Homo sapiens: one gene and its partners. The protein of the gene in region 1 purifies or fractionates together with the protein of each later gene. This does not show direct contact. Each region holds a gene or a part of one and is shown in the gene's direction. Other genes may lie near its edges.

Region 1 (3,927 bases):
GTGGGTCACACCTGTAATCCCAGCACTTTGGGAGGCTGAGGCAGGCAGATCACCTGAGGTCAGGAGTTTGAGACCAGCCTGGCCAATATGGTGAAACCCCGTCTCTACTAAAAATACAAAAGTTAGCCGGGGGTGGTGGCAGGCCCCTGTAATCCCAGCTACTTGGGAGGCTGACGCAGGAGAATCACTTGAACCCGAGAGGCGGAGGTTGCAGTGAGCTGAGATCGCGCCACTGCACTCCAGCCTGGGTGACAAGAGCGAGATTGTCTCAAAAAAAAAAAAATCATAACGGTAACGTCCTATACCTCAAGGGACTGTGGTAAGAATTAAAAGGGTGAAATCAATGTGTAAACTATGAAGCCCAATAGAAATAAGGTGTTATACAGACAATTGCACTATTGAATCTCCGGAGACAGAGTTGAGTTAAGGAAAAATGCACTTTCGGAAAGCTTTGGCGACTGAACGACCTGAGTTCTCCAACGCCAAGGCTGGAAGTTTGGAGACCTTGAAACAAGTAAATTACCATTAATATCATAATTTTCAGTTTCCTTTTAAGAAATGAGAGTAACACCACTTTCTTCACAGAATCAAGTGAGAGAGAACCTATGCAAAGGAACTTATCACTTGGTAGGTATTTGAAGCTCCCTCTGCCTGAAAACTACTTATTCAAAGACTGCAACAAAAGGTGTTCACAGTGTGGTATCTTTCAAAACATACGCTAAGGCAAGGAACAGATAAGGAAATGGAAGTACATCCAATTGGGATCCAAGCAACCCAAGTGGGAACCAACAGCTAGACTTGGAGATGTCTTAGCTCACTCTTAACCACGTGAGGGTAGGGTATCCAACCAATAAAGACATTCAGAGTTGGAGAGCGGGCGAGTGGAGTGTCCTTTAGACTCCGCGGACTCGACGGGAGGGACCCTGCAATGCTTAATTAGAACCGGTTGCCATGGCGACAGTCTCTAGGCAGCGTGGGCTGAGCTCTCCGTAGGAATAAAGGGTGGGCCGCCGCTGGACCCTGCGCGCGCCCGCCACCAACTTTCCCTCCAGATCCGAGAGGGGCGGCGCGCTCCGCCCCCGGGCCGCGCACGTCGGTGCTCGGCGGCGCGCACGCCTGCGGGAGCCCTCTCCAGGCAACCTAGTGCTGATCGCTCGTGCCGGTGCGGCCGTTAACCGCCCTTGCCGGAGCCCTAGGCTCAAAAGCAGCCCCTTACCCTTCCTGGGCTTCCCCCAACCCCTTTCCCGGTCTGCCCTGGGGCATGAGCAGCGATGGCCGGCTGCATCCCTGAGGAGAAAACTTACCGGCGCTTCCTGGAGCTATTCCTGGGCGAGTTTCGCGGACCGTGCGGCGGCGGCGAGCCGGAGCCGGAACCCGAACCCGAACCCGAACCCGAACCCGAGTCCGAGCCCGAGCCCGAACCTGAACTGGTAGAAGCTGAGGCGGCCGAGGCTTCGGTAGAGGAACCCGGGGAGGAGGCGGCCACGGTAGCCGCGACGGAGGAGGGGGACCAGGAGCAAGACCCGGAGCCCGAGGAGGAGGCGGCGGTTGAGGGTGAGGAGGAGGAGGAGGGCGCGGCGACGGCGGCGGCAGCCCCGGGGCACTCGGCCGTGCCGCCGCCGCCGCCCCAGCTGCCGCCTTTGCCCCCGCTCCCGCGACCGCTGTCAGAGCGCATCACCCGCGAGGAGGTGGAGGGCGAAAGCCTGGACCTGTGCCTGCAGCAGCTCTACAAATAGTTAAGTAGCTGGGCTTGGCTGGTGGTGGGCCCGCGGTCCCCACCGCGCCGGCCTCGGACGCGGCTCCCTCGGCCCCTCAAACTGCTCTCTTTTCTGCTCCTCTCCCCCGCACCCGCGCCTGCCGCCGCTGAAAGCGCCCCCGCTGCTCGGACCCGGGCGGTCGGCTGAGAGCTGCCCACGCCCGCCTCGGCCCCCACGCCCGCCTCGGCCCCCACGCCTCCTACCCGGCCTTGAAGCCGCTCTCCTGAGCCCCGGCGCCCTCCCGCCGGGCCCGGGCCCCTCATCCCCTTTCACCTCGGCCCCCAGCTTCTAGCTCCACTTCACGCAACCTTTCCCTTTCCTGCCTGGAAAGGTCCTTCCTCCCAGGCTTGAGCTCCCTCTTCTTCCCAGATCCCTTCTTTCTCCGGGAGGTTTCCTCCCACCCCAGTCTGTCTTTTCCCGGGCTGAGTGCCTTGTTGTTTGGCGGCAGAGACGCGACTCCTTTCTAGACTGAGCTGCGAGGTGCCTCCTGCGTAACTGCAACAATGATGGTTATACCGGCCCCGTATCCAGATGAGAGAATGGAGTAGATTTTCCGTCAGGTGCTCAGTGTTGAAAGTGAAGGGCTTTTTAGATGTTTTCACACAGGGAAGCCTAGTCTCTTAGTTTAGACATTTGACATTCCATAATTGAGGGAAGTGGGAAGGAATTGAGAGGGAAGGGTAAGCAAAATTTTGCAAGCAAGCCTTCGGGTGAAAGAGCCATAATTCATTAAAGTGGAAAAGTCAGGCTGTTTTGATTAAATTGCAATTAGGTGCAGTATTTTCAGTCCATTAAGTAGATGGGATGGGGTGGGGAGAAAGCAGATGGCTTAGCTACACAGATGAAAGTCTAAAATAGAAAGGTCAAGGCTTTGCCTTTCATCCCAGTTCTGGTTTTTATAGGCCTGAAATAGAAACGGTTTACAATTGCGTTTCTCAATGGAATTGTTCCGAAATAATGACAGAGGAGAATACTAGTAAGTCTCTGAAAACATTGGTAAACCTGGGAAGTCTTTTGCCATTCAGCTGATAGTTGTAATGAAAGGTGTTACTCTGGCCACCCAAAAAGTTTACTACTGCAAGATTCGCTGTAATTAAGTTCAAACTCACTTTTGGGATTTTCTCAAAAGCCTAAAGAAAAGAAGGGCCTGGAAAGTAAACCTGTTTTGTCTTCATCCAAGCTAATAGACACCTGATCAGATCATTCTCCTGTTAAAGCAGCAGTTTATCAATAGGGGAAAATCATTTAACAAATCTTCCATAGAAGTGGACTGTGTTGGTATTTCATAATATAAGCTATCTAAAATTTAATTTTAAAATACTGTTCAATTACAGTATTACCGTCAATTAGCAAGGTAATGATGCTTTTTGAGAAACGTAAAATATAAAATGGCGTGTAATACCACCACCCAGAGATAAACAGTATTAACATTTTAGAGTATATCTGGTCTTTGTGAACTATCATAGACAAGGGCTTCTGAGATGTAATTTTTTACAGTATTTAAAGATAAAGCTCCCTGCTTAAAATAAAATGGAAATGTTTATTAAGGGAATTTATCTTAGCAGCAGACTGGCTCTATCTTGACAGTTAATTCTTACCTTTACAAATGCAGTTTGCAGAATTAAACCAATTCAAACTTTAGAAAGTGTCCAAATAAGGTCATTATTTTAGTACAACCCTGAACATTTGCCATGTAAGAAGGTTTTTTTTTTTTAACTTATTTAAAGATGATGGCAAGAAGATGTGTGTTTTTTCATATAGAAGCGGCCAGGAGCGGTAGCTCACTCCCGTAATCCCAGCTCTTTGGGAGGCCGGGGTGGCAGATCATGAGGTCAGGAGTTCGAGACCAGCCTGACCAACGTGGTGAAACTGCGTCTCTACTAAAAATACAAAAATTAGCTGGGCGTGGTGTCGCGCGCCTGTAATCCCAGATACTCAGGAGGCTGAGGCAGGAGAATCGCTTGAACCCGAGAGGCAGAGGTTGCAGTGAGCTGAGATTGTGCCAGTGCACTCCAGCCTGGGTGACAGAGCAAGACTCCGTCTCAAAAAAAAAAAAAAAGATTAATTTTGATATAGGTATAAACTAGAAAAAACTGAAATGATAAAATGGCCATCTAGTTGAGAACAGAAGTTTGGATTTGAAATAAAACTAGCAAAATTAAAGTTGGAA
Region 2 (2,249 bases), on another chromosome or scaffold:
GCTCTGCAGTTTGCAAACCACAGCCTCTTCTGCTTCTGCCTTTTGCCAAGATGATATTGACCTTCAGTGACCTCTTTCTTGTGCCAGCCCACATTCCCCTTTTGCATTGCCTACATGACACCTGTATAAAAATATCCATGGACAGGAGATACTGCATCTATTCAGGGTCTGGATTCAGCTTACTGTTGTTACAAATAAGTAAGTTTGGTAATATATAGTTACATAAATTACTCCTAATTCCTACTTCTTCCTTCATATCTCAAAGGAATATTTAGATGCCATCAAGAAATTTTACCAGACCAGTGTGGAATCTACTGATTTTGCAAATGCTCCAGAAGAAAGTCGAAAGAAGATTAACTCCTGGGTGGAAAGTCAAACGAATGGTAGGAGAGCCACCCATTATAGAAACACCTTTGAGAAACCTATGCCAGTGAGCCTTGTGCTTGACACTGCATGGGGGAACAGGTGTGGGGATTGAGATGGGTTTGCAGGGAGGGCTGAAGAGGGCACTCCAGATGAAGGATTTGTCCAAATGAATATGAAGAGAGCCTAGGGGAGCCAAGGAGGAAATCACAGGAAGCCAATTAGATGGAAACACATCTGGAGAATTATTTGCTTATGGCCCTGCATGACAATAGCTTTGTGGATCCCCTGTCTCCGCTCAGGCCTATTTTGAGATCATATCCTTTACTTTAAATCAGACTCAAATTTTTATGATGAATATTTAATAGAAAACATTAGAAAGCGTCTCTCGTCTCCTTTACTAATTGGGAAACAAGCAGCTCTCTGGTAAATCACCCTTTTGTCTCTGAGCTGGAGCTGCCTGGATCACATCTGTAGCCAATGTGTTCTGCAGGGATTATCACAGCTCTCTTCCCCATCAAGGGCAAAGAGCTTGACAAAGTCTCCATTCTACAGACATCTTTCTTACCTCCCACCTCTCATTACAGGCCAAACTTACAGCAACTCAACATGAGAGTGAATAGGAAGATACCCCCGGAAGTAGTGTCTGACAGCACAGGACATGCGTTTCATATTACAGAGCTCAAGTCACTCATCCTAAAATGCAATCAGGGCCTCCTTCCTCTGAATGGGGACCCCGTAGTTAAAAAAAAATAAAAGTAGGAAGAGGAGGGAGGGAGAAAGGAAAGACACATGTTGGAAGAGTAGACAAAATCAGTTTATCAGTATTCCAAATCAGATGATTGGAGACATTCATACACAGAGAACGTGAACTCCTTCTCTATCACAAGAAGTGATGTCTCCATCAAGGGTAACTTTATACGACTGGAGCCTTGAAGAAAGCTGCATCTGGTGAACCACTGGTCAGTGAGTCTAACAATTCAAAGATCAAAGTCAGTGAGTCTCAAGCAGGGATTTGGGTCAATAATTAACGATCAGTCACGAACATTTGCAAAGCATCTTCCAGACAAGCCATTTGTAGCTTGTGTAAAAGACTCTTTTATTCTTTCCCTTGCAGAAAAAATTAAAAACCTATTTCCTGATGGGACTATTGGCAATGATACGACACTGGTTCTTGTGAACGCAATCTATTTCAAAGGGCAGTGGGAGAATAAATTTAAAAAAGAAAACACTAAAGAGGAAAAATTTTGGCCAAACAAGGTATTGTCTATATTTTATTTATATAGTGTAATATGTTAATACATGGAATGTTAAACATTTCTGATGGAATGTAACATGATAAGTAAAAAATAAAAATTGTTCATGTCTGTTATTTTGTTGTTTTACTCTTATAACTTTATTTAGTTAGGAATACCTGAAAAACTATTGTTTCTAACTCATGGAATTCCTGGGTTATTTCTTAGAAGAAGAAGGATGTGTTGCTATCTCAATAATATTATCTTTTTTGTCTTGTGTTTCACGTGTTATTTGTTGGACACATTGATTTATTGCAGAATACATACAAATCTGTACAGATGATGAGGCAATACAATTCCTTTAATTTTGCCTTGCTGGAGGATGTACAGGCCAAGGTCCTGGAAATACCATACAAAGGCAAAGATCTAAGCATGATTGTGCTGCTGCCAAATGAAATCGATGGTCTGCAGAAGGTAAGAACTTGCATCTACAACTCTTCCTTCTACTGCCGGACATTTTTCCAAAGATACCAAGTTTAAACAAGGTAAAAGCTTATGACCGAGTTGCCTCAAAATGATGAAAAATTCTAAATGAGGAATGATGACTCACCTTCATATTACAAATATTTGAGCATAGGGCCTGACACAAAC
Region 3 (3,301 bases), on another chromosome or scaffold:
GGCACCAGACGGTCTGTGAGGTCTCTTCCCTCCAGCTTCCCTAAACTCCCACATGTGAGACTGTAGAGAACAGACACCATGCAACCCGGAGCTGGCTGACCTTGGGTTGAGCAGGGATTTTTGGTGCCCAGAGAGGCTGCAGGACTAGTGACACTGAGTCCTACCAGCTTGAGGGAAGCTGGCCTGGGACCTGGGCCCGTGCCTGCTCAGGGATTCTTGGACCCCCCGCCCGGCCTCTAGGAGTGGAAGGTGGTGCTTCAGCTGCAGCAGAACTCCCTGGGCATCTGCTGGGAGACCACAGTCCTAGTGTGATGTCGGAAGTAATGAACTATTAAGGGTGACACGATGGGGCTTTACATTTAACTTTTGGTAGAAAAAGGCCACCCTGGGTAAGGTAGATTTTCTTTTTTCTAGAAGGTTTAACTGTACATACTATTACCATGCAGCTAAATGTTGAACTTGAGGAATCTGTAAACAGCAGGCTCATTAAGATATTTTTGTATCGTTTTTAGTGAAGAAGCATACAGTAAATGCTTTCATTCTTCTCCTGTGTTTTTTGATCTCCTGCCTTTTATTGTCTTTTGTGGAAGTGGCTTTGAACCTTTAGGAGATGAGCAGCGCCTGTGGTCTCTGCCCTGCCATACTGTCTGGCACACAGTAGCTGTTTGTTCAGTTAACTTGTCCCCACCAGGACAGTTGGGGTGGCAGGGGAACCAAACCCCAAAGTCTCTGTACCTCTAAAAACCTTGCCACTTTCCAAGATTCTCAGACCTCTGTAGCCAGGCTGCTTCTCCTAGAAATCTGCTATTTTGATAAAAGCAATTTTGGCCATATTACCAATAAGTGTTTTTTTTTTCCCCCTTTGGAAGCTAGACCTTCTTACTTTATTTTTTTATTATTATTTTTAATAAAAATGTAGAGACAGATCTTACTTCATTGTCCAGGCTGGTCTCAAACTCCTGGTCTCAAGCAGTCCTCCCTCCACAGGCTCCCAAAGTGCTGGGATTCTGGGACTAGCTAGACATTGTTAATGGTGAGAGATTACTCCCAAAGTAGTTGGGAGCAGTTACTCCCACATCGCCGGAGGGCCCATTTGTTGATCTGAGAATCATTTGTACTGCTTGTTTCACCTTACTGCTTCTTGTCTGAAATGAGGTTGGCCAAGCATGTTCAGAAGTTATTTTCCCTATTTAGATGCTGGTGGCTGGTGCCCTTTGTATCAAAGTCACAAGGCACTCGCTGACCCTGAGGAGCCCACAGGGGCTGGAGCAGCATGCTCCCTCACAGGCTGAGATGAGGAGATTAGGCATCCTGCCTCTGAGCCAGCTGCTGTGGGGCACGAGGCACCAGTGCACAGGTGCCCCGACTGTGAGTCACTTTCTTCTTGCTGTAGCCTTAATGATCTTGTTTGCTTCCCTTTTGGTTGTGGTGTTGCCCTTCAGCATGCTTTGGAGTTTGAGACACTAAAACGAGCCTTTCGTGTGAAACTGGTCCTAGAACTTAGTAGCACTGTGGTTCCAGCTTCATCTTTCCCAACTCCGCTGACCTCATATGCGACATGGGGTCCACCTACTTGGTTGTTGACGGACGCCACCCCTCTTTCCCTCGGCACCTGTGCCTGTCCTCTCTGAACCTGCCACTGCCATCGTCGTGAAGAATCAGAAGCCCGGAAGCCAGAAGTGTGGCTGGCCTGCGGGGGGTGGAGAAGCTGCAGTGTGCCCTTTGCTTTTCTTTTAGGACTCCATCCCCGTGTCTACCTCCCTCCTTGGAGACACTTCCGACACGACCTCTACTGGCCTTGCCCAGCGCCTAGGTATGTACCCACAGCTGGCGCTGCATGGCCAGCCAGGTGGGGCCCACTCTTTAATGGAACCATGAAGCAAGTCCCTTCGGAAGTAAAGCATCTTTATGCTAAGAACCATCACCTCATTGCTGCTGGGAAGCACAGACCTTTGCACGTTGGGTCTTATTTAAGGGGCACATTCCATGCTCGCCTGTCATCACCACCGTCCCAGGGCTGGCCTGTTCCCAAAGGACTCCCACCTCGTCCTTGGGTGTGTCCTTGAGTCCATGAGCTGATTTAGTTGCCTTCCGTAAGTGCATCACCACCTCCTGGGAGGAGAGCATGAGAAGTGCCCACAGCCCCTGTGGGTGGTGGCTCAAGGTAGCCTCCCGGGCCTTAGGAGGAGTCAGTGCAGCTGGTGGAGCAGGTGTCACCTCTGTGCAGGAAGGACTGTCCTCACTCAGTGTGATACCGTTCAGGGCTCGGAGGGAAGACTGGCCTGGCCTGTGAGTGTGGCGTAGAGTGGGGATTAAGCAAAGGTCATGAGGCTGAATGCTCCACTCTTCCCACACCCCAACACACTTCCTGTGGGCCAGGTAAGGCTTCCATGTGCTCTGCGACCCCCAGCCCCAGTGCCTGTGGCCAGTGTGCACAGGATGCCTGTCTCCTGCCCAGGCCTGGCGTTCTCCAGTAGGCCCAGCTGCTTCTGCTCTGGAGTCTTCTCTGTGTCTCAGGCACAGGACCTGGTACCTGACAAGCAGGAACCTCTGTGTCAGTCACACTGAGGCAAATGCACACGAATAGCATGGCACCTGGCCCAGGGGGAAGGCAGGGCAGGGTGGAGTGTCACCAGCAGGCCCATGACAGTATGTGGATAGGACAGAGGTCAGGGAGGGCACAGGTCAGCATTTCAGGAACTCGCAGTATTCTTTTTCCCTCCCTTGGAGGTGGGGACCTGACTTGTAAGTTAATTTGGTAATTTTTAACTAGGAAGTAAATTTAAAATTTACAGAAAAGTTGCAAAGAAGATAGAATTCCTGCTTAGCTTTTGCCCCAATTTCCCACTTGCCACCCTTCCCTCTTTGTGTTTGTATCTTTTTTTTTCTGAGCCACATGAAAGTAAAGCTGCCTTTTGTGTCTGTGTCACTCTGTGTGTGTGACTGTGTAAGGGGTAGCACACTTACATGGAACAGGTTACTGCGTGTGGGAGAAGGCTCAGGAAGGTATTCATATTTATACAGACGGAAAGCTGGGTGGGGTTGCGGACACACTCCCATAGAGAAGGTGGTGTGAGCTTGTCTGGCAGGCCGTGAATAACTTTCATATCAATAAGGTAAATTAGTCTCCAGAATATTTGCGAGATGGAGGCCTAGTATCTATATGCAAAAAAGAGGGGTTCTCAGTATCTCGACTGTCTCAACAAGTCACGGGTGTGCCGTGGCTTCCGGCGTCTCTTAAGGGAATGGTGCTGCAGAGCTCGGACCAAGAAGGTTTTCCAGCAAAGTCCCATGCTTTGCC
Region 4 (3,500 bases), on another chromosome or scaffold:
GCATTGTTGCAGTAATAATTTGAAAGGAATCTTTTTTCTGAGCAATGGGCTTAAAATATTCAGTCAACCATGCTATAAACAGATGTACTATCATCCAGGCTTTTTTGTTCATTTACAGAGCATAGGCAGAGTAGATTTAGCATAATTCCTAAGGGCTCTAGGATTTTGAGAATGGTAAATGACCTCATCCTAAAGTCACCAGCTGCATTAGTCCCCAACAAGAGTCAGCTTGTCGTTTGAAGCTTTGACGCCAGGCATTGACTTCTCTAGCTACGAATGTCCTGGACGGCATCTTCCAATGTAAGGCTGTTTTGTCAGCATTGAAAATCTGTGGTTTAGTGTAGCCACCTTCATCGATGATCTTATGTAGATCTTCTGGATAACGTGCTGCAGCTTCTATATTAGCATTTGCTGCTTCACTGTGTACTATTATATTAAGAAGATGGCTTCTTTCCTTAAAGCTCATGAACTAACCACGGCTAGCTTCAGACTTTTCTTCTGCATCTCACCTCTCTCAGCCTTCATATAATTGAAGAGAGTTAGGGCATTGCTCTGGATTAAGCTTTGACTTAAGGGAATACAGTTTGATCTAATCCAGACCAGTAAAACTCTGTATTATCAGCAATAAGTCTGTCTTGCTTTCATATCATTTATGTGTTCAGTGGAGTAGCACTATTAGTTTTCTTCAAGAACTGCACTGGTGCAAGAGGCCTAGCTTTTGACCTGTATCCGTTTTTAACATGCCTTCCTGACTTCCTTAGAAGCTTAATCCTTTCTAGCTTCTGATTTAAAGTGAGAGACATGAGACTCTTCCTTTCACTTGTATACTTAGGGGCCATTGTCGGGTTATTCATTAGCTTAATTTCAATATTGTTGTGTCTCAGGAGTAGGAATATCCAAAGAGAGGGAGAAAGACTTGGGGAGCAGCTGGTCAGTGGAACACTCAGGACAGAAACAGCATTTCTTTTTTTTTAATTAATTTATATTAAAGACAGGGTCTTGCTCTGTTTCCCAGGCTGGAGTGGAGTGGTGCAGACATACCTTATTGCAGCCTTGAACTCCTGGGCCCAAGCGATTCTTCTCCCTCCGCTTCCCAAGTAGCTAGGACTATAGGCACATGACTCCATGCCTGGCTAATTTTTTATTTTTTGTACAAATGGAGGTCTCACTATGTTGCCCAGACTGGTCTTGAACTCCTGGCCTCAGGTGATCCTCTCACCTCAGCCCAGCATGCTGGGATTGCAGATGTGAGCCACTGCACCCAGCCCAGATTTTTTATATATTGTGTTGTCAGTGGTAAAGATGATAGAGAATGTCTCATTCTGCTGATAGGAGTATAAATTGATACAACCACTTAGGAAAGAATCAAGGAATATCTGGTAATATTGAAAAACCCCACAGTTTTTAATCACATTCACAAAGGTATTCTTTATAAAGACTGGAAACGATCTAAGTGTCCATCTTTAGGGAAATGGGTAAAGTATGACAGAGTCATGATGAGACCACTATACAGCCATTACGGAATGAACTAGATCCATACGTCAACATAGCACAACTGAAGGGCAAAATAGAGTGTGAACAAGCAAGTTTCAAGATTTCTTTAAGGTATTTTAATTTTTTAAGCAGAAAAATACTATGTAGTGCTTATGATTGTGGTTTCCAGAGTGGGAGAGAGTGAGGGAATTGGTCTTGGAAGGGTACGAAAAGATCTTCAACTTTATTTGCCATTTTAAAAAATTGTGGTCAAATGTATATAACATAAAATTTATATATATATATATATATATATATATATATATATATATATATTTTAGACAGTCTCGCTGTGTCGCCCAGGCTGGAGTGCAGTGGCATGATCTTGGCTCACTGTAACCTCCGCCTCTTGGGTTCAAGCGATTCTCCTGCCTCAGCCTCCGTGGTAGCTGGGATTACAGGCGTGCGCCACCATGCTTGGCTAATTTTTGTATTTTCAGTAGAGACCATGGTTTCACCCTGTTGGCCAGGCTGGTCTCAAACTCCTGACCTCAAGTGATCCGCCCACCTCGGCCTCCCAAAGTGCTGGGATTACAGGTGTGAGCCACTGCGCCCGGCCCAAATTTATCATTTTCTTAAGTGTGCAGTTAAGTGGCATTCAGCAACCATCACCAACATTCAGCTCCGGAACTTTTCTATCTTCTCCCACCTGAAATTCTGTACCTGTTAAACAATGGCTGCTCATTCTCCCCTCCCCTCAGCCTTTGGCAACTGCCATTCTCTTTTCAGTCTCTACAAATTTGACTACTCCAGGTACCTCATAAGTAGAATCATACAATATTTGTCCCTTTGTGACTGGCTTATTATCCTTAGCATAATGTCCTCAGGGTTCATCTGTGTTGTAACATGTGACCAGATTTCACTCCTTTTAAGGTTGAATTATTTGCTGGTTTTTAAAAAAATTTTGAATTTTAGTTGGTTAATATGTGGAGTTTTGTTATATTATTGTTCGCACCTTTTATACTTCAGAAATTTTCTTTCCAAAGGAATTGGTTGATAGAAGATTATAAGGGAAAGCTTACTATCCTGATTCAGATGATTTACTCTAGTTTATTTTCCGATTCAGTGTGACCGCAACAAGGGAAAACATGGCTTATACTGTGGAATGCCTGCGGGGTGATGTGTAAGTACCTGTGTGTGTTTAGGACTTCTGCTTTGAAAGAAATACTAAGCTGCTCACTTCTGGTCTTTGTAATGCGTCATTATGACCTCTGACTTCCATTTTGGATTATTGTTCATAAACTGCTCAAAAACACTGCTTACCACAAGACCTAAAGTTTCACATTGAGAGCATTACAGCTATGTAGAATCTCAAATGTTGGCTTTACATTTTTGACTCATAATTCTTATCTCGATGTCTTCTGTAGTGATATTCTAATGGAGTTCCTGCTCAATGTCACCACAGCACCAGAATTTCGTCGTTGGGAAGTAGCTGACCTTCAGCCTCAGCTAAAGATTGACAAAGCTGTGGCCTTTCAGAATCCGCAGACTCGTAAGTACATTTCCAGATCACATTTGATTCTAAGATACTGGGTTTTTTAGAAGATCAATTTATAGAAGAAAAAAAATTGCTGTCAAAATTTTTATTTTTATTTTTATTTATTTATTGTTTTGAGACAGAGTCTCACTCTGTCACCCAGGCTGGAGTGCAGTGGCACGATCTTGGCTCACTGCAACCTCCAGCTCCCGGGTTCAAGCAATTCTCCTGCCTCAGCCTCCTGAGCAGCTGGAATTATAGGTGTGCACCACCACACCTGGCTAATTTTTTGTATTTTTAGTAGAAACAGGGTTTTGCCATGTTGGTCAGACTGGAGTTCAGTCTTGAATTCCTGGCCTCAAGTGATCCACCCACCTCAGCCTCCCAAAGTGCTGGTGTTACAGGTGTGAGCCACCATGCCTGGCCAAATGTTTTACTCCTTGAATTTGAAAATATCTTTTTCAAAAATTTGTTATTTAGATTTATTATT
Region 5 (3,500 bases), on another chromosome or scaffold:
TGAGTAGCTGGGATTACAGGGGCCCGCCACCACACCTGGTTAATTTTTGTATTTTTAGTAGAGACAAGGTTTCACCATGTTGGTCAGTCTGGTCTCAAACTCCTGACCTCAGGTGATCCACTCACCTTGGCCTCCCAAAGTGCTGGGATTACAGGTGTGTGCCACTGTGCCTGGCTAAAGTAAGATTAAAAAAAAAAAATCAAAAGCCAGTTTTACATTTTTGTTTCCCTTCACGATTGAATGGCTTGATCTGAGACTGAGGAAATCCAGGCACGCTTCCATTTCGGCATTTCAAGTGTGTAGAACATTGCAGTGTTGAAATATGTAGAACATGTCATTCCTGGGCCTGGGATGGTGTCTCCTTGTTGGAAGGACAGTTCTTTCCCTCAACACTGCACTTTATGTATGGAAGGGGTGTGTAGTTTGTCAGGTCTGAGCTTGGGCCTGGCCAGGCATGCAGCTGGTGTTTAGTCTGCAGTGGACTTATCTTCACATGCATCTGTCATGTTTGGCCTTAGGTGCAGAAAAGCCCTGTGTTCCGGAGGGACGGCGCAGACATCCACTCCGACCTCTTTATTTCTATAGCTCAGGCTCTTCTTGGGGGTACAGCCAGAGCCCAGGGCCTGTACGAGACGATCAACGTGACGGTAAGAGGGTGTGAGAACACCTTTGTCACCCCTGTACTTTATTGCTCTTTTTCTGAAATGGAAAAGAACTGACCAGTGGCCTGGAACCCATGAGTGACCAGCATGTGGGGGGGCACTCACAGGGGAGGACATGAGGAATTTTAGGCTGCTCCTTGAGTGTGGACCACAAGCCACAGGCCTTGAGTCTATAATCGCATGGGAAGCAGTTCCTGGCTGGCATCACTCCCACACTGGTTAGCGGGGCCTGGGAACTGGGCGCATTCAGGACACAGAAGGGTTCACCCTGGGTTGTGCTCTCTGCACTTGCTTCTGTCCAGTGTCTGGCTCCAAGAGCAGAAGACTCGGGCGGTGCATATCCCTTTTGCCACAGTGATGGCTGCCTGTGTGCTGCCAGCACCTGTCCCCCACCTCTCTCTTGACCTGCCCCTCCAGCTCTTCCCACCTCCAGGCCACATCATTCTCTGTATTCGCCTCAGAACCTTCTCCAGCTTCTTTGTGGGGAACCTTGGGGTAACCTCCATGAAGGAGGTGGGCATTTTGGGCCAAGGCTTTCTCCTCCATCTGGGGGCTATTCCCTGGCTTCTCCAGGGTCCTGTGGTTCCAAGGGCCAGGGAGCGACCTCAGCCACGCACCCTGTATTGGCTTTTCCTGCTTTGCTCCCTCACTCCTGCTTCCTGGGCTCACTTGCCCAAACTCTTGCCCCCTCATCCTAGTCACAGGCTCTGCTCTGGGCAGACCCAACTTAGCTCATTTCCATGTGCTTGTGGGCGGGCTTGGCCCAGAAACCCAAGTGGTGGTTCTTTTTTTTTTTTTGAGATGGAGTCTCGCTTTGTCGTCAGGTGCACGCCACCACACCTGGCTAATTTTTTGTATTTTAGTAGAGACAGGGTTTCACCGTATTTCCCAGGCTGGTCTTCAACTCCTGATCTCAGGCAGTTCACCCGCCTCGGCCTCCCAAAGTGCTGGGATTAAAAGGCGTGAGCCACTGCGCCCAGCCCAGTGGCAGTTCTTTTTTTTTTTTTTTTTTTTTTTTGAGACAGAGTCTTGCTCTGTCGCCAGGCTGGAGTGCAGTAGCGCGATCTTGGCTCGTGGCAATCTCCGCCTCCCAGGTTCAAGCGATTCCCACCTCAGCCTCCTGAGTACCTGGGCCTACAAGCACGCGCCACCATGCCTGGCTAATTTTTTGTATTTTAGTAGCGATGGGGTTTCACCATGTTGGCCAGGAAGGTCTCAATCACCTGACCTCGTGATCTGCCTGCCTCAGCCCCCCAAAGTGCTGGGATTACAGGCATGAGCCACTGCGCCCGGCCTTTTTTTTTACCCACCCCCTCCACCACCGCTCTGCCGAGACAGAGTCTTGCTCTGTCAGCCAGAGCTGGAGTGCAATGGCACAATCTTGGCTCACTGCAACCTCCGCCTCCCGGGTTCAAGCAATTCTCCTACCTCAGCCTCCTGAGTAGCTGAGATTACAGGTGCACGTTACCATGCCCTGCTGATTTTTGTATTTTTAGTAGAGACGGGGTTTCATCATGTTGGCCAGGCAGGTCTTGAACTCCTGACCTCGTGATCAGCCTGCCTCGACCTCCCAAAGTGATGGGAGCGTGAGCCAGTGGTAGTTCTTTTCAAGGAATTCCTATCAAGATTGTCTTCATGTAGTGAAAACTTTTTATTTGAGCAACTGGGGACCAGGGGAAACCACAGATTTTCTTTCTTTATAGATCCCCCCTGGGACTCAGACAGACCAGAAGATTCGGATGGGTGGGAAAGGCATCCCCCGGATTAACAGCTACGGCTACGGAGACCACTACATCCACATCAAGATACGAGTTCCAAAGTAAGTGCCCCCTAGGCTGTGGCCAAGCCCGCCTGGTCCTGCGGTGGCACTGCCCTTGGAGCTCTGTGGCTTGGGCAGGTTACTGCTCCCTGTAAGTCAGGTGGTTCCTGCCCGAGTTATCTGTCTGTAAAGTGGACATAGTAGAATGGTCAACTTCTTTTTTTTTGAGATGGAGTCTCGCTGTGTCCCCCAGGCTGGAGTGCAGTGGCGCCATCTCGGCTCACTGCAACCTCCGCTTCCCAGGTTCAAGCGATTCTCCTGCCTCAGCCTCCCGAGTAGCTGGGATTACAGGTGCCTGCCACCATGCCCGGCTAATTTTTTGTATTTTTAGTAGAGATGGGGTTTCACCGTGTTAGCCAGAGTGGCCTCAATCTCCTGACCTAGTGATCCACCCACCTTGGCCTCCCAAAGTGTTGGGATTACAGGCGTGAGCCACCATGCCCGGCCAGAATGGTCGACTTCTTGGAGTTGTTGGGAGAATTAAATGAACAACACATAGGAATTGCTTTGCTGCTGCTGCTATTGTTGATTTTCTTCTTTTTTTTTTGAGAAGGAATCTGTCACTGTGTTGCCCAGGCTGGAATGTGGTGGTGCCATTTCAGCTCACTGCAACCTCCTCCTCCCCAGTTCAAATGATTCTCCTGCCTCAGCCTCCCGAGTAGCTGGGACTACAGGCGCTTACCACCACGCCCAGCTAATTTTTGTATTTTTAGTAGAGACGGAGTTTCACTGGCCAGGCTAATCTCGAACTCCTGACCTCAGGTGATCTGCCCACCTTGACTTCCCAAAGTGGTGGGATTACAGGTGTGAGCCAGCACGCCTGGCCCGTTGCTTTTCTTGTTGATGTTACTAGCACTGTTAGGAGCTGGAGAGGTGGCCTGGGCAGAGTGCTGTGGGTACCTAGGGCGGGACATGCCTGACTCCCCTCGGGAGCACTCATGCTTTTTGTTAATTAGATAATTTCTTTTTTTTTTTTTGAGATGGTGTCTAGCTCTGTCTCTAGGTGGAGTTCAGTGGTG
Region 6 (3,500 bases), on another chromosome or scaffold:
AGAAGAAATGCAATGAGTACAAAAAAATAGTGATAGAGGATGAATAAAATATAGTACTTGATAGCCGAACAGGGTGACTATAATAATTCAATTGTATATTTAAAAATAACTAAAAGAGTATAACTGGATTGTTTGCAACACAAAGAATAAATGCTTGAGGTGATGGATACCTCATTTACCCTAATGTGATTATTACACATTGTATGCCTGTATCAAAATAACTCAAATATCCCATAAATATATACCTACTACTAATATATACCCACAAAAATTAAAAATTAAAAAAAGAAGAAATGCAGCTGGGCATGGTGCCTCACACTTGTAATCCTAGCACTTTGGGAGGCCGAGGCAGGTGGATCACCTGAGGTCGGGAGTTCGAGACCAGCCTGGCCAACATGGTGAAACCCCGTCTCTACTAAAAATACAAAAATTAGCTGGGCGTGGTGGCACGTGCCTGTAATCCCAGCTACTTGGGAGGCTGAGGCAGGAGAGTCACTTGAACCTAAGGGGCGGAGGTTGCAGTGAGCTGAGATCGCACCACTTCACTCCAGCCTGGGCAAAAGAGTGAGACTCCGTCTCAAAACAAAAAAAAAGAAAAAAAAAAAAGAAATGCAAATGGCTGATAAATCCACCCTGTTAGTAATTTAAGGAATGCAAAGTAAAGCAATAATGAGACATCATTTTTTTCACCAATGACATGTCTAAGAATGATAATACTAAGTATATTGCTTGGAATATGGATAAATGGACATTGTGTTATGTTTCTGGTAGGAACATAATAGGCATAACCTTTTGTGGGATATGGCTATATATATGTTTTAAAAACCTTGAAAAATCTGTCTACCTAATAATTCTATTTCTAGATATTTATTTTTTATTTTTATGTTACTTTTTTCAATTAATACACAATAATTTTACATATTTATAGGATACATGTGATGTTTTGATACATACATACAATGTGTAATGATCAAATCAGGGTATTTGGGATATATATCATGTCAAACATTTATTATTTCTTTGTGTTAGGAGCACTTCAGATCTTCTAGCTATTTTGAAATATGCAATAAATTATTGTTAACTATAGCTACCTCACTGTGTTATTAAACATGAATAATGTATTCCTTCTATCTAACTGTATGTTTGTACCCATTAATCAACTTCTCTTCACCCCTCCTGCCCCTTCCCATCACTCTACTCTCTACCTCCAGGAGATCAACTTTTTTCCCCCTTTTTATTTAGAAATGGAGGTCTCATTATATTGCCCAGGCTGGCTTCTAATTTCTGGGCTCAAGTGATCCTCCTACCTCGGCTTCCTGAGTAGCTGGGAGTACAGGCTAGATGTTCCATCCATGTTGTTGTAAATGACAGGATTTCATTCTTTTTTTTTTTTTTCTCCCTAGACGGAGTCTCGCTCTGTTGCCCAAGCTGGAGTGCAGTGGTGAGATCTGGGTTCACCGCAACCTCCGCCTCCTGGGTTCAAGCGATTCTCCTGCCTCAGCCTCCGGAGCAGCTGGGAATACAGGTGCATGCCACCACGCCTGGCTAATTTTTTGTATTTTTTAGTAGAGACGGGGTTTCACCATGTTAGCCAGGATGGTCTCGATCTCCTGACCTGATCGGCCCGCCTCCACCTCCCAAAGTGCTGGGATTATAGGCATGAGCCATCGCGCCTGACCCATTCTTTTTTTTAATGGCTGAACGGTATTTCATTGTGTATATACACCACATTTTCTTTATCCAGTCATCCATTGACAGACACTTAGGTTGATTCCATATCTTGGCTATTGTGAATGCTGCTGCAATAAACATGGGGCTGTAGGTATCTCTTTGATATACTGATTTTTTTTCCTTTGGATAAATACCCAGTAGTGGGATTGCTGGATCATATGGTAGTTTTATTTTTAATTTTTTGAGAAGCCTCTGTACAGTTTTTCTTTCTTTTTTTGAGACAGGATCTCACTGTGTTGCCTAGGCTGTAGTGTAGTAGTAAGAACACTGTTTCTTGCAGGCTCACACTTTAGGGCTCAAGGGATCTTCCCACCTTGGTGTCACTGGGACTACAGGCACCCACCACCACACCCAGCTAATTTTTAAATTTTTCAGAGAAGAAGGATCTTGCTATGTTGCCCAGGCTGCCCTCAAACTCTTGGCCTCAAGTGATCCTCCTGCTTCAGCCTTCCAAAGTGCTGGAATTACAGCTATGAGCCAGCGTACCCAGCCCATACTGTTTTTCATAATGGCTGTACTAATTTACATTCCCACCAACAGTGTATAAGAGTCCTCTTTCTCGCCAGGCGTCGTGGCTCACGCCTGTAATCCCGGCACTTTGGGAGGCCGAGGCAGGTGGATCACCTGAGGTCAGGAGTTCGAGACCAGCTTGGCCAACATGGCAAAATCCCGTCTCTACTAAAAACAAAAAATTAGCTGGGCGTGGTGGCATGTGCCTGTAATCCCAGCTACTCAGGAGGCTGAGGCAGGAGAACTGCTTGAACCCGGGAGGCAGAGGTTGCAGTAAGCTGAGCTCGTGCCACTGCACTCCAGCCTGGGTGACAAGAGCGAAAATCTATCTAAAAAGAAAAAAAAAAAAAGAGGCCTCTTTTGCTACATCCTCACCAGCATTTGTTATTTTTTATCCGTTTGGTGATAGCTATTGTAACTGGGGTGAGATGGTATCTCATTGTGGTTTTTATTTGCATTTCCCTGATGATTAATGATGTTGAGCATTAAAAAAAATACCTTTTGGTCATTTGTATGTCTTCTTTTGAGAAATGTCTATTCAGATTCTTTGCCCACTTTTTAATGGAACTATTTGTTTCTTTGCTGTTGAGTTGTTTGAGTTTCTCATACATTCTAGATATTAGTCCCTTGTTGGATGACTAGTTGGCAAATATTTTCTCCCTTTATACAGGTTGTGTCTTTGTTGATTGTTTTAAAGAAATAATTATAGGCAGCAGTATGGATTTATGTGTAAGCAGGGTAATTACACTGTAGTTTATAATAGTGGAAAATTAGAAACAACCTAAATAGCCAATAATAGCCAATTTGTAAAATTGTGAAGCATCTACGTAATTATAGAAAATTATTTACATGGAAACATTTTTATTATACTTCATCACACTATTCAAAATAAATGTTTTATTTTCTTTGTTCTTTCATCCACCCATTTATTCTATCCGTTAACAGTTTATTCTATTCATTGCTCCTTGCTATTCCACTCCTTTGGGTTTATTTTCTTTATTGTTGAAATATTCCTTTAAGTACTTTTAATGAGGGGCTTGGTAATAAACTCTCTTAGTCCTTGTATGTCTGAAAATGATTATTTTGCTTTCATTTTAAATGATAATTTACCTGGGAATATACCAACTCTCTCAGCACTTTGAAGGTATTTCTGTCTTTTAATATCTTGCTTTTAAAAGCAATATATTATTGCTTTGTCAGTCTTTTATGTCTCATTTTTTTAATGATTCTTGTTCTTTAATGTTTTGCAATTTCCCTTC
Region 7 (2,437 bases), on another chromosome or scaffold:
GAAGCGGTGACAAACATTCCTTACAATCTGGAGTCTTTGTTTTTCTCTCTCTCTAAAAGAAATGTTTGGTATATTAACCATTGATTTTCCCTTAATTGCTGGGGGACCAGGCCTGAAGCTCTGAAGAACCCCTGAAACCATGAATTGGCCATTCTTATTCTGGAAGATGCAATTTTGAGGTTTGCATGCGCCAAGGTTTTGAGGGTTTACGTCGTTATAATAGCTTTTTCCCCCCAGTCTCCCTGTCATGGCATTTACAACAGCTTTACAAGATGTAATTCATATAACAGTCACCCATTTAAAGTGTATGCTCCAGTGGTTTTTAGTATATTCATTGAGTTTTGTCATTAGCACCACAGTCAGTTCTAGAACATTCTCATCACCCATATTTACATTTATTTTTAATAACTCTCATGTGTAAGCTGAGTGTTTTAAACTTTAGAGACTTCTGGGGGGTGCTGAACTTGATAAAAATATTCAGTATACAAGTGTTCTTTATAGTTCACTCATCATTTTCATAGAATTAGGGTTTTAAAATTAGAAAGTAATTTAGGCCATTTCCATCTCCTGTCCCTCAAATCCCAGCTCAGTTTTGGGATGAGGTGTCAAGTATAAGTTTGTAAGTATGCCAGTCATTTGCACGGCTAAGAGAAACATCTAGAGAAGTCTATATACGACTTGCTTAAAGCTGAATGTTGATTTACTGTTCACATGATTTGGGTGATTTTAGTCACTGGGACTGAGCTAATGGAGTTGAAGCATTGTTGCGGGCATTGTACCTCCAGACCAGTGTGTAATACAAAGAGTTCTTGCAGACATAGGACAGAATTGGAGAAACAGCTTCTAACAGTGGGAAGACTCTCAGTACAACCAAGCTATTCCTTACCTTTCTGATTTCTGAACTTTTTTCCATGTGATACCTGCTGCTTTGAAGGCACTAAAATAACAGAAGCAGATAGAGCAGAAATCCTCACTCAGATCTTCCTCCTTCCTACCTGTATAACAGTTTGTGGCTTGCCTTGTCTGTTTTGTGCGTTTCGTTACGCGTATGTGAGTATGTGCACGTGATTTCCAGAAAGGAGAAGCGCACGATACTGCCCGTGCTCTGTGACTCCTGAGTGCACGCTTCCTCTGCATTTGGGCTCCTAGGTCGGCCTCGTCCTGTGGACGTTGCCCCTTGTTTCGTGCCATCCACACATTCCTGATGCCCCGCTGCTCTACTCTTTCTCCAGAGTACTTTTTCCAAACATGTGATTTGCACATTTGTTATGTTTATTGTTTGTTTTCCACTTCTAGAAGTGTGCCACTAGGCAGGAATGTTTGATTTGTTCACTGATGATCCCAGATCTCTAGAACCCTGCCTTGCCTGTAGAGGGTGCTTGGTAAATGTGCTCTGAATGAATGGCTCCATGATCCTCGTTTCTAAGAGCTAGCACGATTTCTCACTCAGTCCTGGTTGGACACAGGTTCCCTGGAACAGTGCTGTTGTGGTTATCTTCTCACGTGTCTTTGTTTCTGAACTTGAAACGCTTTGAGTTTTTTATTGTTTTTGTTCTTCCTCATTAGTTTGAGTCCCTTGCAGATAGGCTTTCATTTTGTCCAGTCACCTGTTCAGGGAGCCCTGAGGGCCTTGGCCCACGTCTGCAGGTAACTGGTTTTTTTATTTTTATTTTTTTATTTTGAGACGAAGTCTCGCTCTGTCACCAGGCTGGAGTGCAGCGGTGCGATCTCAGCTCACTGCAACCTCCGCCTCCTGCGTTCAAGCGATTCTCCTGCCTCAGCCTTCCGAGTAGCTGGGACTATAGGCACGTGCCGCCACGCCCGGCTAATTTTTTGTATTTTTAGTAGAGACGGGGTTTCACCATGTTAGCCAGGATGGTCTCGATCTCCTGACATCGTGATCCGCCTGCCTGGGCCTCCCAAAGTGCTGGGATTACAGGTGTGAGCCACCGCGCCCAGCCCTGCAGGTAACTGTTAATGTAGGAAGTGCTGCCTCTGGGCACCTTGGCCCCAGGGTTCATTAGCAGTTGCCCCTGGTGGGTTTTTGTTGGCTGTGATGAGAAGTGCTTCTGTTCCCCCTCCACCACACTCCTGCAACTGTTTAAACAGTGGCTGTGACCCCCTGAGATGATCCAGGGTTTCAAGGCGTGCACATGTCTGTGTTTCGGTTTTCAGAAGTATCACCTTGGGGTGACTCTCAACTTACATGGATTTTCAAAGATTTATTCAATATGTTTTTCAGAAAGTGTTGTGAAGAGCGAAGACTTTTCGCTCCCAGCTTATATGGATCGGCGTGACCACCCCTTGCCGGAGGTGGCCCATGTCAAGCACCTGTCTGCCAGCCAGAAGGCATTGAAGGAGAAGGAGAAGGCCTCCTGGAGCAGCCTCTCCATGGATGAGAAAGTCGAGTGTGGGTATTGAAGGGACCCACAGGCGC

What was found.
Region 2: the proteins of PPM1E (region 1) and SERPINB4 purify together in Homo sapiens (affinity purification with mass spectrometry; 2 studies listed by BioGRID and IntAct, with this or other methods). This does not show direct contact.
Region 3: the proteins of PPM1E (region 1) and PSMG4 purify together in Homo sapiens (affinity purification with mass spectrometry; 2 studies listed by BioGRID and IntAct, with this or other methods). This does not show direct contact.
Region 4: the proteins of PPM1E (region 1) and UQCRC2 purify together in Homo sapiens (affinity purification with mass spectrometry; one large-scale study listed by BioGRID and IntAct). This does not show direct contact.
Region 5: the proteins of PPM1E (region 1) and DNAJA3 purify together in Homo sapiens (affinity purification with mass spectrometry; one large-scale study listed by BioGRID and IntAct). This does not show direct contact.
Region 6: the proteins of PPM1E (region 1) and STX17 purify together in Homo sapiens (affinity purification with mass spectrometry; one large-scale study listed by BioGRID and IntAct). This does not show direct contact.
Region 7: the proteins of PPM1E (region 1) and COX4I1 purify together in Homo sapiens (affinity purification with mass spectrometry; one large-scale study listed by BioGRID and IntAct). This does not show direct contact.

The regions. Positions count from the first base shown.
Region 1 is NC_000017.11:58,754,727-58,758,653, forward strand, and holds the start of PPM1E (protein phosphatase 1E), read left to right. Parts: upstream 1-1,127; 5' UTR 1,128-1,271; coding exon 1,272-1,735; intron 1,736-3,927. UniProt on the Homo sapiens protein: Protein phosphatase that inactivates multifunctional CaM kinases such as CAMK4 and CAMK2. Dephosphorylates and inactivates PAK. May play a role in the inhibition of actin fiber stress breakdown and in morphological changes driven by TNK2/CDC42.
Region 2 is NC_000018.10:63,639,008-63,641,256, reverse strand, and holds part of SERPINB4 (serpin B4), read left to right. Parts: intron 1-265; coding exon 266-383; intron 384-1,480; coding exon 1,481-1,623; intron 1,624-1,916; coding exon 1,917-2,072; intron 2,073-2,249. UniProt on the Homo sapiens protein: May act as a protease inhibitor to modulate the host immune response against tumor cells.
Region 3 is NC_000006.12:3,261,947-3,265,247, forward strand, and holds part of PSMG4 (proteasome assembly chaperone 4), read left to right. Parts: intron 1-1,737; coding exon 1,738-1,813; coding exon of another isoform or gene 1,814-1,878; exon of another isoform or gene 1,879-2,227; coding exon of another isoform or gene 2,228-2,379; exon of another isoform or gene 2,380-3,301. UniProt on the Homo sapiens protein: Chaperone protein which promotes assembly of the 20S proteasome.
Region 4 is NC_000016.10:21,959,861-21,963,360, forward strand, and holds part of UQCRC2 (cytochrome b-c1 complex subunit 2, mitochondrial precursor), read left to right. Parts: intron 1-2,599; coding exon 2,600-2,656; intron 2,657-2,900; coding exon 2,901-3,025; intron 3,026-3,500. UniProt on the Homo sapiens protein: Component of the ubiquinol-cytochrome c oxidoreductase, a multisubunit transmembrane complex that is part of the mitochondrial electron transport chain which drives oxidative phosphorylation.
Region 5 is NC_000016.10:4,446,368-4,449,867, forward strand, and holds part of DNAJA3 (dnaJ homolog subfamily A member 3, mitochondrial), read left to right. Parts: intron 1-518; coding exon 519-647; intron 648-2,365; coding exon 2,366-2,481; intron 2,482-3,500. UniProt on the Homo sapiens protein: Modulates apoptotic signal transduction or effector structures within the mitochondrial matrix. Affect cytochrome C release from the mitochondria and caspase 3 activation, but not caspase 8 activation.
Region 6 is NC_000009.12:99,909,654-99,913,153, forward strand, and holds part of STX17 (syntaxin-17), read left to right. Parts: intron 1-2,502; exon of another isoform or gene 2,503-3,500. UniProt on the Homo sapiens protein: SNAREs, soluble N-ethylmaleimide-sensitive factor-attachment protein receptors, are essential proteins for fusion of cellular membranes.
Region 7 is NC_000016.10:85,802,695-85,805,131, forward strand, and holds part of COX4I1 (cytochrome c oxidase subunit 4 isoform 1, mitochondrial isoform 1 precursor), read left to right. Parts: intron 1-2,242; coding exon 2,243-2,410; coding exon of another isoform or gene 2,411-2,437. UniProt on the Homo sapiens protein: Component of the cytochrome c oxidase, the last enzyme in the mitochondrial electron transport chain which drives oxidative phosphorylation.